2 linked regions of the Homo sapiens genome follow. The protein of the gene in region 1 interacts with the protein of each later gene in a biochemical or structural test. Each region holds a gene or a part of one and is shown in the gene's direction. Other genes may lie near its edges.

Evidence for each region. Proteins that work in one complex are often made in the same cells at the same time.
Region 2: of the proteins of CHEK2 (region 1) and REV3L, one has a biochemical effect on the other in vitro, tested with the Homo sapiens proteins (one study listed by BioGRID).

What each region holds. Positions count from the first base shown.
Region 1 is NC_000022.11:28,687,243-28,689,820, reverse strand, and holds the end of CHEK2 (serine/threonine-protein kinase Chk2), read left to right. Parts: intron 1-605; coding exon 606-686; intron 687-1,834; coding exon 1,835-1,924; 3' UTR 1,925-2,078; downstream 2,079-2,578. UniProt on the Homo sapiens protein: Serine/threonine-protein kinase which is required for checkpoint-mediated cell cycle arrest, activation of DNA repair and apoptosis in response to the presence of DNA double-strand breaks.
Region 2 is NC_000006.12:111,473,053-111,476,458, reverse strand, and holds part of REV3L (DNA polymerase zeta catalytic subunit), read left to right. Parts: exon of another isoform or gene 1-2,213; intron 2,214-3,406. UniProt on the Homo sapiens protein: Catalytic subunit of the DNA polymerase zeta complex, an error-prone polymerase specialized in translesion DNA synthesis (TLS). Lacks an intrinsic 3'-5' exonuclease activity and thus has no proofreading function.

The sequences.
Region 1 (2,578 bases):
CTCCTGCAGCATGAAACCCCTCACCTCCCGCTCCTGCAGCAGAAACAAAATACTTGGTTCTGTTTATTGTCTCCCTTTCTCATTAGACCTGAGCTCTGGGATACTGTGGGCTTAAGTACTTCTGAAAATTTGTATGGCATCTGCTGGGTGAATTTTCCTAGGGTGCTGGGCTGGTTGTTAGGACAGTCTGGGTGACTGGCCTCATTCATGGCAGGGGCAGCAGGTGGAGAGTGGTCCGGGAAGGATTTGAGGAGCTGCACGGAGTCAGGCCCAGCCTCTGGCCTCCTGATTGCCACCTTTCTCAGGATCTTGGATACTAATTAAGAAACTCTTGACTGCTGGAGGCTGTGATTGACCCACTGAGAGCTTTTAGGCATGTGGATGTGAGTCAGCCAGGATTGATGGAGCATTGACTGCTAATTAGACTCCTCTGGGAAGGTAGAGGCGGGCAACACATAATGCCTTCGCTGTGGGAGCTTCATCAAGGGGATGATTCTTGGACGGACATTTTTCCTCCCTCTTTCCACAGGGGCATGCTAGCCCTGTCATTCTAGGAGTTTATTATCCTTCAGACACAGCTACTTATGTTTTTAATTCCCTCACAGGATGAAGACATGAAGAGAAAGTTTCAAGATCTTCTGTCTGAGGAAAATGAATCCACAGCTCTACCCCAGGTTCTAGCCCAGGTATTCGTATTCCTGATGATCACTAAATGTAGTCTGGGCTTAAGGAGCTGATAAGCAAAGATGATGAAATTCAAGATTTTCCTGAGTAGCAATTGCTTAACATTGTTTCAGTTATAATGTAGTAGAAACTCTGTTTTAACTTGATTCGCTCCAGCACCCTTAGATTTAAAAATGCAGGATATGTTTAATATCTAACACATAATAGACCGATAAGCACAGCTAGGGATTGTCATCCAAAAGGTCACCTGCAAGGCAATTTCGAAAGACTCTATTAGAGGCTCAAATATAAATTTGTTGAACAAATTAAAATTTGGGTCAGTAGTTGATTCCTTGATTACAATTTTATTCTTTAAAGTTCTTTGTGAGTATAAGTTAATTCCAGTCCTGCTTTTTTGTTGTTGTTGTTGTTGTTGAATGGTAGCTGTCCTTTTTCCCACTGTTTCCTCCCCCCAATTTTTTTTTTCTTGAGACAGAGTCTTGGTTTGTCACTCAGGCCGGAGTGCAGTGGTGCAATCTCAGCTCACTGCAACCTCTGCCTCCTGGGTTCAAGCAGTTCTCCTGCCTCAGTCTCCCGAGTATCTGGGATTACAGGTGTCCGCCACTGTGCCCAGCTAATTTTTGAATTTTTAGGTGAGATGGGGTTTTGCCATGTTGGTCAGGCTTGTCTCGAACTTTTGACCTGAAGCGACCTGCCCACCTCGGCTTTCCAAAGTGCTGGGATTACAGCTGTGAGTCACCGCACCCAGCCTTCCTCCCAATTTTATATATGGGAAAACAACTAAGGCACAAAGGTTGTCTTCCCGCAAAAGACCAAGACTTGGGGCTTCAACTGAGAGGTATTATAGTCCTTTTAAACTTGATATTTAGAAGAGGACGATCAAGAGGAAGTTGGTTATGCTACTTGCTTTCAGTATACATCGTTCAGAGGTCAGAAGCCATAAGGGAGAGAAATATCTATTAGATAAGCATGTCTGAGTTGGGGGCTGTGGTGAGGACTCAGTTGTCAATGATGACAACCAGTAATTTTTGGTTCTAGAATTTCACATCAAATGCCCCCACTTTACTGGAAGCATATTGAGGAACTTTGATAATCTTAAAGAAGCCAGTGATTTTCTTTTGAACATTTCTCCATTTTCCTTTATTTTCAGCCTTCTACTAGTCGAAAGCGGCCCCGTGAAGGGGAAGCCGAGGGTGCCGAGACCACAAAGCGCCCAGCTGTGTGTGCTGCTGTGTTGTGAACTCCGTGGTTTGAACACGAAAGAAATGTACCTTCTTTCACTCTGTCATCTTTCTTTTCTTTGAGTCTGTTTTTTTATAGTTTGTATTTTAATTATGGGAATAATTGCTTTTTCACAGTCACTGATGTACAATTAAAAACCTGATGGAACCTGGGCTTTGTGCTTCTGCTTGATAATCGGTTCTTTAGTTGAATGGCTTTATTATTTATTTATTTGAGATGGAGTCTCACTCTGTTGCCCAGCCTGAATGAAGTGCAGTGGTGCAGGCTTGGCTCACTGCAACCTCTGCTTCCCAGGTTCAAGCGATTCTTGTGCCTCAGCCTCCTGAGTAGCTGGGATTACAGGTATGCACCACCATGCCTGTTAATTTTTATATATTTTGTAGAGACAGGGTTTTGCCATGTTGGCCAGCCTGGTCTTGAACTTCTGACCTCAGGTGATCTGTCTGCCTCAGTCTCTTAAAGTGCTGGGATTACACGCATGAGCCACTGAGCCTAGCCTGAATGGCTTTTTTATATTTAAAGTTGTGTGCCTTTCATCTGGAGCTACACCTTGGCTATCACTAGGCAGGTTTCCCAGGATGTCACCCTGGTCTCAGCCTGTGAGAGCTGAATACAAATTCTAAGGGCCCCTTGGAAAGTTCCAGGGAAGGGA
Region 2 (3,406 bases), on another chromosome or scaffold:
CAGGCTGGATGCAGTGGCTCATGTCTGTAATCCCAACACTTTGGGAGGCTAAGGTGGGAGGATTGCTTCAGCCCAGGAGTTCAAGACCAGCCTGGGCAACATGGAAAGACGCTATCTCTACAAAAAAATACAAAAGTTAGCCAGGCAGGGTGGTACACGTTTGTGGTTCCAGCTACTTGGGAGGCTGAGGCAGGAGGATCGCTTGAGCCCAGGAGGTGAAGGCTGCAGTGAGCCATGATTGTATGACTGCATTCCAGCCTGGGTGACAGAGCAAGTCCCTGTCTCAAAAACAATCAAAACAACTTTGTTTCATGTGTAACATTATTTAAAATTATATAAAATTACATTCAGGTTTGGTCCCATCCTCAGGATATCTCATGTATGTGCAAATATTCTAAAATCTGAAACACTTCTGGTCCCAAGCATTTCAGATAAGGGGTATTCAACTTGTATATGAAAATGGATCCCACCTTCATTTATGAGTAGGGAAAAGAAGAATTGTTTAATAAACAGTGTTGGGATAGCCAGTTAGTCATCTGGAAAAATAATGTTGGCTTCCAGAGGAGTTAAAGATTTAAATATGAAACAAAGAAACAAAAAAGGTAGGGTAATTATTTTTTACGTAATCCAGGATTGGTGAAGTCCTTTAATAGCATACTGGGTTGCTGGATTTTAGGACATAAAAATAAAATTCTGTACAGGGGAAAAAATCAAACAAAGTTAAAAGAGAAACAGACTAGTAAAACTTATTTGTATACTTCACAAAGGGCTAAGTTCCTCTTAATACAAAGAACTAGAAAATAATCCAGTAGAAAAATTAGCAAAGAGAATTCATATGAAAAAATGTACAACTTTATTTATAATATAATAAAGATGTAAATTCAAGCTACAACATACTCTTTGTCACCTATCAAATGAGCAAAGGTTATGTATAGTATAACTCGGGAAAGGTGAGAAGAGAAAATGGTCAGCCTTATACATTGCTGGTGGGATTATAAAGTATTCATACTCTATAGAAAGCAGTTTGAAAATGGTTTTCAAAAATTAAAACACAGATTTATTTCGTTCTAGTAATTCCATTATAGGATTTTATTCTCTAGAAGATTTTGCATATATGTCAAATAAATATCTAAGAATATTTGTGGCAGCATTATTTGTTACTGCAAAAGATTGGAAACATGCTAAACATATCAGTAGGGAAGTAGTTAGGTGAATTATGGTGTATATATTCAACAGAATACTAGTCAGCCTTTAAAAATAATGAGAGAATACTATGTGTACTGCTGTGGTGCTATGTCAAAGATATGAGGAAAAAAAGCAAGAGGCATGACTGCATGTGCAGTTTGCTGCCATTCGTGTGGTTAAAATATATATTTTTATATGCTATATATGCCTATGTATTAGAATAAAATTCTTTATTATAATAAAATCCATATGTGTGTGTGTGTGTGTGTGTGTGTGTGTGTGTGTATATATAGGCAGCTATAGAATGTAATGTGCATGGGAGGATACGGGAGAGTCTGATGACAGTAATTGCTCCAGTGTGTAGAAGTGGTTGCCTAGAGGACAAAGATGGACTAACTTTTAAAGTATACTGTTTGGTAATTTTTCAGTATTTTAAAATCATGTGCATGTAATACTATTCAAAGTTAATATTTTTAAGTTATGTTTTGCTTACAGGAATTGGTAAGAAGGAAAAAATAAGAGACCATAATAGTTGTTACAAACAAATGATTACTGCAATACTGTTTTTAACTTTAGTTATTGTTAGAGATCTTCTAATTCAAAGTTTTCAGTTGATGTTACATGGCTCACAGAAGGGTAGTCCTAGTAGAATGGGGGCTGAAGGAAGGCGTTGGGGTTCCTGTGAACAAATAGCATGGTGAGTGACAACCAACAGTTAAAAGCAGCATACTGCTCCTTTTGATATTTTAAGTGCATTAAATGAGGTGTGCCTTACTACTTGGAATCTACTTCAGCAGCCAGCCACAGTGTACAGCTGCCTTTTGTGGGAAAGGGATCATGGAATTGTTACTGGAGTTTGTATTCACGGTGCCGAAGGAACATGCCACCTACCACAAGGTGCAACCCACTTACAATGAGAGGACAAGGAAGCAGGGAGGGTGTCTCTGGTGGCCCAGCTCCAGGCCTGACTATCTGTATTCACCTGTATTGGATGCTGCTCACCACGTGCGTTTGATATGCTCTGCAAGGTGACTGCCTAATAGTGCATGTATGTTTGTCAGAAATAAAGCATGATTTTAATTTTGAAATATTCTTGATGTGAAAATGTTTGGTTTTGAAATTCATATTAAAATTTTCAGCATTACATGTGTCAAAAAATATCTACCATAACACTTTACATTTTTTCTTCTGTAATTAGAAAATATGATAATTTTTTTTCACCAGGCACTGTGTAGATGCCTCCAAATGCCCTCCTGTTGTCCAGTGTGCTAAATTTTTTTTTGCTGACAAGTTTTGTTTGCAATGTTAAAAGGGTTGAGAAGCATCATTCTAGTCAAATGTACTCATTTTGTATGAAGAAAACTGAAATCTACATAGCAGGCTCAGGGATTTGTCCAGTGTCCTACAGTTGGTTGGTGTGAGGCTGGATTTGAAAATTGGGGATCTTGGATCTTGACTCTTCAGCTCTCATCACCTCACACTGACCCCCTCTCCCCCCGAAACATGAGGGAATATTGGAGGAAGGCATTGATGATAATTGAAAGACAAAAATACAGAACCTCAGAGGAATTATTAAAAGAACTGCACATATGTAGTTCAGAAATCTTTGAGACCCTACTGTATCTAATAGTGCTTAGAATCTTCTTATATAATAATATTATTAATATTCTATAATCTAGAATAGATTATAGTAGGATTCGTTTTATGATGACTTGGGCTGTATCTTTAAGAAAACAAAAGATTATAGCAAAAGGAGTTTAGGGCAAACATAAATAAAAATTGATACTAAAATCGTATGTATGCTATTTCCAAAAAAGGGAGGAGGGAATATATGAGACCTTTCAAGTTCCTCTGGTACTATAATTACATTTTCTCTCATCTTGCTTTTGATTGGATTAGAATTCACGCAATTAAAGATAATCTAGGGCCAGGCACCTATAATCCCAGCACTTTGGGAAGCAGAGGCAGGAAGATTGCCTGAGCCCAGGATTTTGAGACCAGTCTGGGCAACATGGCAAGACCCCGTCTCTTTAAAAAAAAAAAAAAATCTAAGTGAAAAATGATTCAAGTCTAAATAGGTTGGGTTAAAGTAGGTTTTAGAGGATGTTGTCATTGGTGCTGGATATTTCAAAGAAATAGTTTGAACTTACTTATAAAGTAAGAAATGGGCCATGGTATGAGGTATGTCACTCTGGTATCTGGCTGCCATTTTAACATCATA